Regions from separate parts of the Homo sapiens genome. Here region 2 is linked to region 1. Evidence: fine-mapped QTL for protein levels in blood plasma. Region 1 holds a variant in brackets. A gene starts in the other region. All regions are shown on their forward strands. Region 1 has its middle 34 kb from the start of NID1. Region 2 holds the start of ADGRF5 (adhesion G protein-coupled receptor F5).

The links. PIP is the posterior inclusion probability: the model's chance that the variant is causal. The UK Biobank Pharma Proteomics Project read protein levels with antibody pairs (Olink). The fine-mapping took linkage between variants from a reference panel, not from the people measured, so its PIPs are less certain.
Region 2: ADGRF5 starts here. The variant in region 1 is fine-mapped to the plasma level of the ADGRF5 protein (UK Biobank, PIP above 0.99).

Annotation. Positions count from the first base shown.
Region 1 is chr1:236,097,728-236,100,634 of GRCh38, forward strand. No RefSeq gene overlaps it. Among named protein-coding and RNA genes, the nearest start is that of NID1, 34 kb to the left of the region's middle. RefSeq lists enhancers at 1-76, 1-29. The variant CT/C (reference allele first, on the strand shown) is at 1,495.
Region 2 is chr6:46,920,441-46,923,347 of GRCh38, forward strand. It overlaps ADGRF5 (adhesion G protein-coupled receptor F5), which reads right to left and starts at 1,498. Exons shown (of 21, transcript NM_001098518.2): 1 at 1,273-1,498. LOC105375080 (a long non-coding RNA gene) reads left to right here and starts at 1,639. Exons shown (of 3, transcript XR_001744147.2): 1 at 1,639-1,995.

The DNA of each region.
Region 1 (2,907 bases):
GTCTCAACACCTGGTCCTTGATCTCCTTGACTCCCGTTGGACCCAAGAAGTATGGCTTCTCTCCCCTTTCCTCTGGTGGATGGCCCTGGACACAACCCACCTCACACTAACAGAGACAGAGGGGTGGTCCAAGGGAAGTGAGTGAGAAGTTACCTGCAGAAGAGGGAACTTTTGAGAGAAGGAACCAGGTAGCTGTGAGGCCCTTGAAAACAGAAGGCTGTCAAGGCAGATTTGAAGGGAGAATATATGTGAATTAGCAAGTGCAGGAGATAGAGAGAGCACTAACTATTAGAAAGAAATGAAAATAGGGCCAGGCGCGGTGGCTCACACTTGTAATCCCAGCACTTTGGGAGGCTGAGGCAAGTGTATCACTTGAGGTCAGGAGTTCGAGTCCAGCCTGGCCAACATGGCGAAACCTCCCCACCATGTCTACTAAAAATACAAAAATTAGCTGGGTGTGATGGTGTGCACATGTAATCCCAACTACTTGGGAGGCTGAGGCAGGAGAATCTCTTGAACCTGGGAGGCGGAGGCTGCAGTGAGTCAAGATTGTGCCACTGCACTCCAGCCTGGGCGAAAGAATGAGACTCCATCAGAAAGGAAGAAAGGAAGGGAAGGGGAAAAGAAGGGAAGGGAAGGGAAGGGAAGGGAAGGGAAGGAAGGAAAGGAAGGGAAGGAAGGAAGGGAAAGGAAGAAAGGAAGGGAAGGGAAAAGAAGGGAAGGGAAGGAAGGAAAGGAAGGGAAGGAAGGAAGGGAAGGGAAGGAAGGAAGGAAGGAAAGGAAGGGAAGGAAGGAAAGGAAGGGAAGGAGGGAAGGGAAGGAAGGAAGGAAGAAAGGAAGGAGAAACTAGGAATAGGGAGAGGATAAAGAAATTTTAGTTTTTGAAAAAGCTGTGTTAAGCTAATCAAGTCACATGAGATCATGCAGAGATGTGGCTACCATAGTATCTAAAGAAAAGGACTCTGAGGCAGGCAGCCTGCCTGGGTTCAAATCCTGCCTCCCCCACTTATTCACTGTGCAATCTTGGGCAAGTTACCTAACCTCTGCCTCAGTTTCCTCATTTGTGATGGTTGTTGTAAGGATCAAGTTATTGCACGTAAAGTACTTAAAACAACTCCTGGCCCATTAAGCACAAGAGACCTGTGTTTTGTTCTTGTACTATCTTCCTCTTCATCATTATGTACCTATAAATTAACTAACCTGGATGTTACTGGCATTTCAAGATTTCCTTGCACAGTGCTAAAAGTCACTGTTCAAATTGTGCTCACAATCTGTGCACTCTTATCAGAATATGGGCAAGAAGTTGGACAGAGTTGCCCTACTAGAGAAAGTGGGTATATAGAGAGCATCTTTTACATATTTGCATTGGGGCTGTCTTTCATCACAATGGGAGCAGAATTTGACAGGCAGTAGGGTGGATGAGGTGCAGCTCCACACTAACCAGCTGAGCCATGTGAGCAAATATTGAGCACATCAACCCCATTCATCATCAGG[CT/C]TTTTTTTTTTTTTTTTTTTGAGACAGAGTCTCACTCTATTGTCCAGGCTGGAGTGCAGTGGCACTATCTCAGCTCACTGCAGCTTCTACTTCCTGCTTTCAAGTGATTCTCGTGCCTCAGCCTCTCAAGTAGCTGGGAATACAGGTGCACACCACCATGCCCGGCTAATGTTTTTGTATTTTCAGTAGAGACAGGGTTTCATCATGTTGGACAGGCTGGTCTTGAACTCCTGACCTCTGGTGATCCACCCGCCTTGGCCTCCTAAAGTGCTGGGATTACAGGCATGAGCCACCGAGCCCAGCCATCAGGCTCCCTCTAACACGTGTTTACATTTAATCATTCGATTTGCATAAATCTAGCTTCTTGCCTGCCCTAGACATGTGTGGCTTTGTTGCAAAGCTAGACATGCTTTAAAATTAATTTGAAATGCATGTAACTTTTGCTATCCCAAAGATGGTAATATAGCTGCATAGCATTCCTAGAGACCTCCAACACTTCCTTCCTTCCCGAACAGAGCATTTAACTCTCTTCTCAAACTACCGACTGTCTGGGGCGGTGTGCCATGATGCCCCGGGGGAAGCTCCGTGGATCTGGAAGGCAACTCGGGACATCTGGTCTGGCCAGCCCACCCACGTAATGCATTCAGCAGACCTGCCCCCTACACAGAGGGCTGAGCCTCTGAGCTCCCACAGGCTCTACCTTATAAGCAAAGACTGAAGAGTCTTTGTTCATAAGGAAGAGAGAAGAAAGAAAAGAAGCAATTAAACAGAATTGCAGGAGCTCCTAGAGTCTGTCAGTTTCTTCAGAGCCACGCCAGGGTCTCACCTATCTTTGTAGGCTGCTCAGTAGAAGTGAGGCACCCAGTGGGTGCTGGCTGAGGTCTCCTCTCCCTCGGCAGGGTCCCTTCTGATGGCCTCCCTCCTCCATCTGCAACAATCCCCCGCACCCCTGTGGGCTTCCTTCTTCCCACCACCTCTGCATGCTGGGCCCTCTGGGTTCTGTCTTCTTCCTATTGGAAGCTCCCTTTCCAAATGACCTCCTGTCCTCTGCTGGCCCAGACCTCCCCTTATGTGCTGTGAATCCCCCATCTCCAACTCCAGCCCAGTCTCTCTTCTCAACATGCAGTGGCCGCTTCCATCCATGTCCCCCAGGCATCCTAAATTCAGCACTTCCAAAACTGGAATTCACAGGTTTCCCAAATGCACTTGCACGCCTGGGTTCCTCATCCAGCCCAAGACACCACCTTTCCCCGACTCGCTCTGTCTAAAACCCGAGTCTTCTTCGACTTCCTTCCCTCTTTCCCTCGTGCCTAACGATAGTAATAGTATTGCTCATATGCATTGAGTACATCCAGTGTGCTAGACAGCATACGAATCCCCAGCAGTTTCCTTTGATACACCTACTACATGAG
Region 2 (2,907 bases), not on the chromosome of region 1:
GCCCCGGCTTGTCCTATAGAGCTCAGAAGAACAGAAAATAAAGCCTTTAACTGGTAACACAGAAAACAATTGATAGAATAATATTTGGGGGGGGGGAAGAGAGTGTATATTGGGGGTGCAATTGAAAACTGTTAACAGAAAGCTGGCTGCGATGGCTGACACCCGTAATTCCAGCATTTTGGGAGGCCGAGGCAGGTGGATCACCTGAGGTCAGGAGTTCGAGACCAACCTGGCTAACATGGTGAAACCCCATCTCTACTAAAAATACAAAAATTAGCAGGGTGTGGTGGCGGGTGCCTGTAATCCCAGCTGCTTGGGAGGTTGAGGCAGGAGGATCGTTTGAACCCGGGAGGCAGAGGTTGTAGTGAACCAAGATCGTGCCACTGCACTCCAACCTGGGCGACAGAGCAAGACTCCATCTCAAAAAAATAAAAATAAAAATAAAATCTATTTAGAGATATTCTTTTACGATAAGAATATAGTCAAGTATTATCTGTGTAATTCAAAAATAACCTACATTGAAAAACCAACTACGTTAGCCCTTTATGAAAGAAAAAATGCTGTAGTGAAGTGGCATGACCTGGCTTTCTGAAATATGAGAAAACATGGTTTAAGCAAACCGCACATCATAGAGTTGCTCCTTTCAAAACAAGTCGGCCTGGCCCTGAAGCCCCAGCACTTTTACTGACCTCCTTCCTAATGCTGACTACAAACTCCTTTCCCCTCAGTCCTGTGTGGGAGGCTGCAGCCTACATTTTACATTTCTAAGGTCATCCCTTGTCCTTTGGAAGGACTCTCCCGAAGCTGAGCGAATAGCCAGGGCTCCCTCCTCCTGCTACTGGGATGCAGCCTCTTCCTTCCTCAGCCTGACCACAGCAATGGCCGACTGGCCCTGAAATGCTCTTGGCAAGAGCAGCAGCTCAGTAGCTCATGAATGCACTGGTTTTTATAGTATTTTCTGGTTTAAGGACGAGAGAACTTGTTTGAAAAAAAAAAAGTCTGTTATTAAGAAAATCCTAAAGGATCCCAGCTAGTTGCTTGATACGCCATCTCCTTTAATATAGTCTCATTAACTGGACCAACAGTATGCACAATGCTCTTGACTGGACATACTTAACTTTCCCAACATACATATCACACCTACGCAAAAGAAAAGCAGGCAAAGAGGATCGTAAGTGGAAGATGTCTTAAGAGAAGTGACTTAGGAGCCCCTGAGGTCTTGCTACAAAGGGAGACAGAATGACAGACCGCAGTAGGAGAAATGTCTGTTACCTGTCCAGCACTGTGGTCCCCCGGCTGGCTCCCGCTCTGATCAGATGCCTAAAAGCTTCCCAGTTTCCACTATGGGGCCATTTGTCCTGGGCCTCCTGGGCAGGGGCTCTCACGCCCAGTGGAGGGAGAACCAAGCAAGACTCATTTCGCGTTTTCAGGCAGGACTGGCAGCACCGCTCCCACGCTCAGCCTCCCCCAGCTATGATCCTCCCAGTCTCACAGAGTCATCCCTGAGAGCCGCGCTGCTGTTTTAAAAACAAAAAGTGATTTCCTGGTCCTCTTCCCCGGATGGCGTGTGCGATTTCCCTCACGCCCATGGGAAGTCCTTCAGATCCTTCTTATCTGGAAACCTCTCCACCAAGTGGACAGACTTGTTTGGCCAATGCCCCTAGTTCTCACTTTTCTTTCTCCAAAGAAAAAAATCAGAAAAGCAAAACCAGAGCAAACCAAACATAGGTTAGAGCTAATGAGAAGTACAGGATGTCTGGTTTCAACTTTTAAAAGATGACCACTAAATTAGATTGTAACTTCAGAGAGGAAGGAAAATTAAGACTATCGATGAATTCTTTGTCTTTAGCAGTGCCAAGAAAGCAGAGAAAAAAAGAATCCGCAGAAGAGAAGAGACCTAGAGAAGTTGCTTAGTCCTCCCCCGCGGGAGGGCTGTACCTCAAAAATGCCATATTGGAGGGACGTCCAGTTCTCCTAGGTTTCCAGGGAAACTCTGTGAGTATTTGTGTATCAAACTATAAATTTAGTGGTACTTAAAATACCGCTCAATAGCATGGATATTTAAAGATAAGGAGATATATGGTAAAGGCCTGGTTGGCAGGCTGCATCCAGGTTGCTGGGTTTAAAGATGAATTATAGTCAGCTCATTTTTGAACTGGAAGTGACCTCACTGATCCTCATTTTACAAAAGAGGAAACTGAGGCCCAAGGAGAACCCTTCCCAAGGTCAGAACACGGATGGGGAATGCTGTTTGACTCTCTACTCTGGAGCTCTGCCCACAGAAAGTTTGATGAATGAGGCCTGGCTTGGAATCGGCATTGGAAATAAGTGCTTCGGGTGAGTCCCATGCAGGTAGTCCCAAGAGTATCTTCAGGGAATTCCTCATAGTGTCAAAGAAAGGACTCTGGAGTCAGACTGTAGGAACTGATGCTTTAGTCCCACCAATTATATGTGGCCGGGTACACATTACTTGACCCTATTGAGATTCAGTGTTGTTTTGTTTTTAGACGGAGTCTCGCTCTGTCTCCCAGGCTAGAGTCCAGTGGCGCGATCTTGGCTCACTGCAACCTCTGCCTCCTGGGTTCAAGCGATTCTCCTGCCTCAGCTTTCCCAGTAGCTGGGACTGTAGGTGCCTACCAGCACATCTGGCTAATTTTTGTATTTTTAATAGAGACAGGGTCTCTCCATGTTGGCCAGGCTGGTCTCAAACTCCTGACCTCAGGTAATCCCCAGCCTCGGCCTCCCAAAGTGCTGGGATTACAGGCGTGAGCCACTGCTCCTGGCCCTGAGATTCAGTTTTATTGTGTGTGAAAGTGGGATAATAATAGTACTGAGTTTATAGACTCTGCTGAAACTGAAGAGGAAGAGTTTAGTAACTGTTTGTTGTTCTCTGGAGCCCTGGGCTCC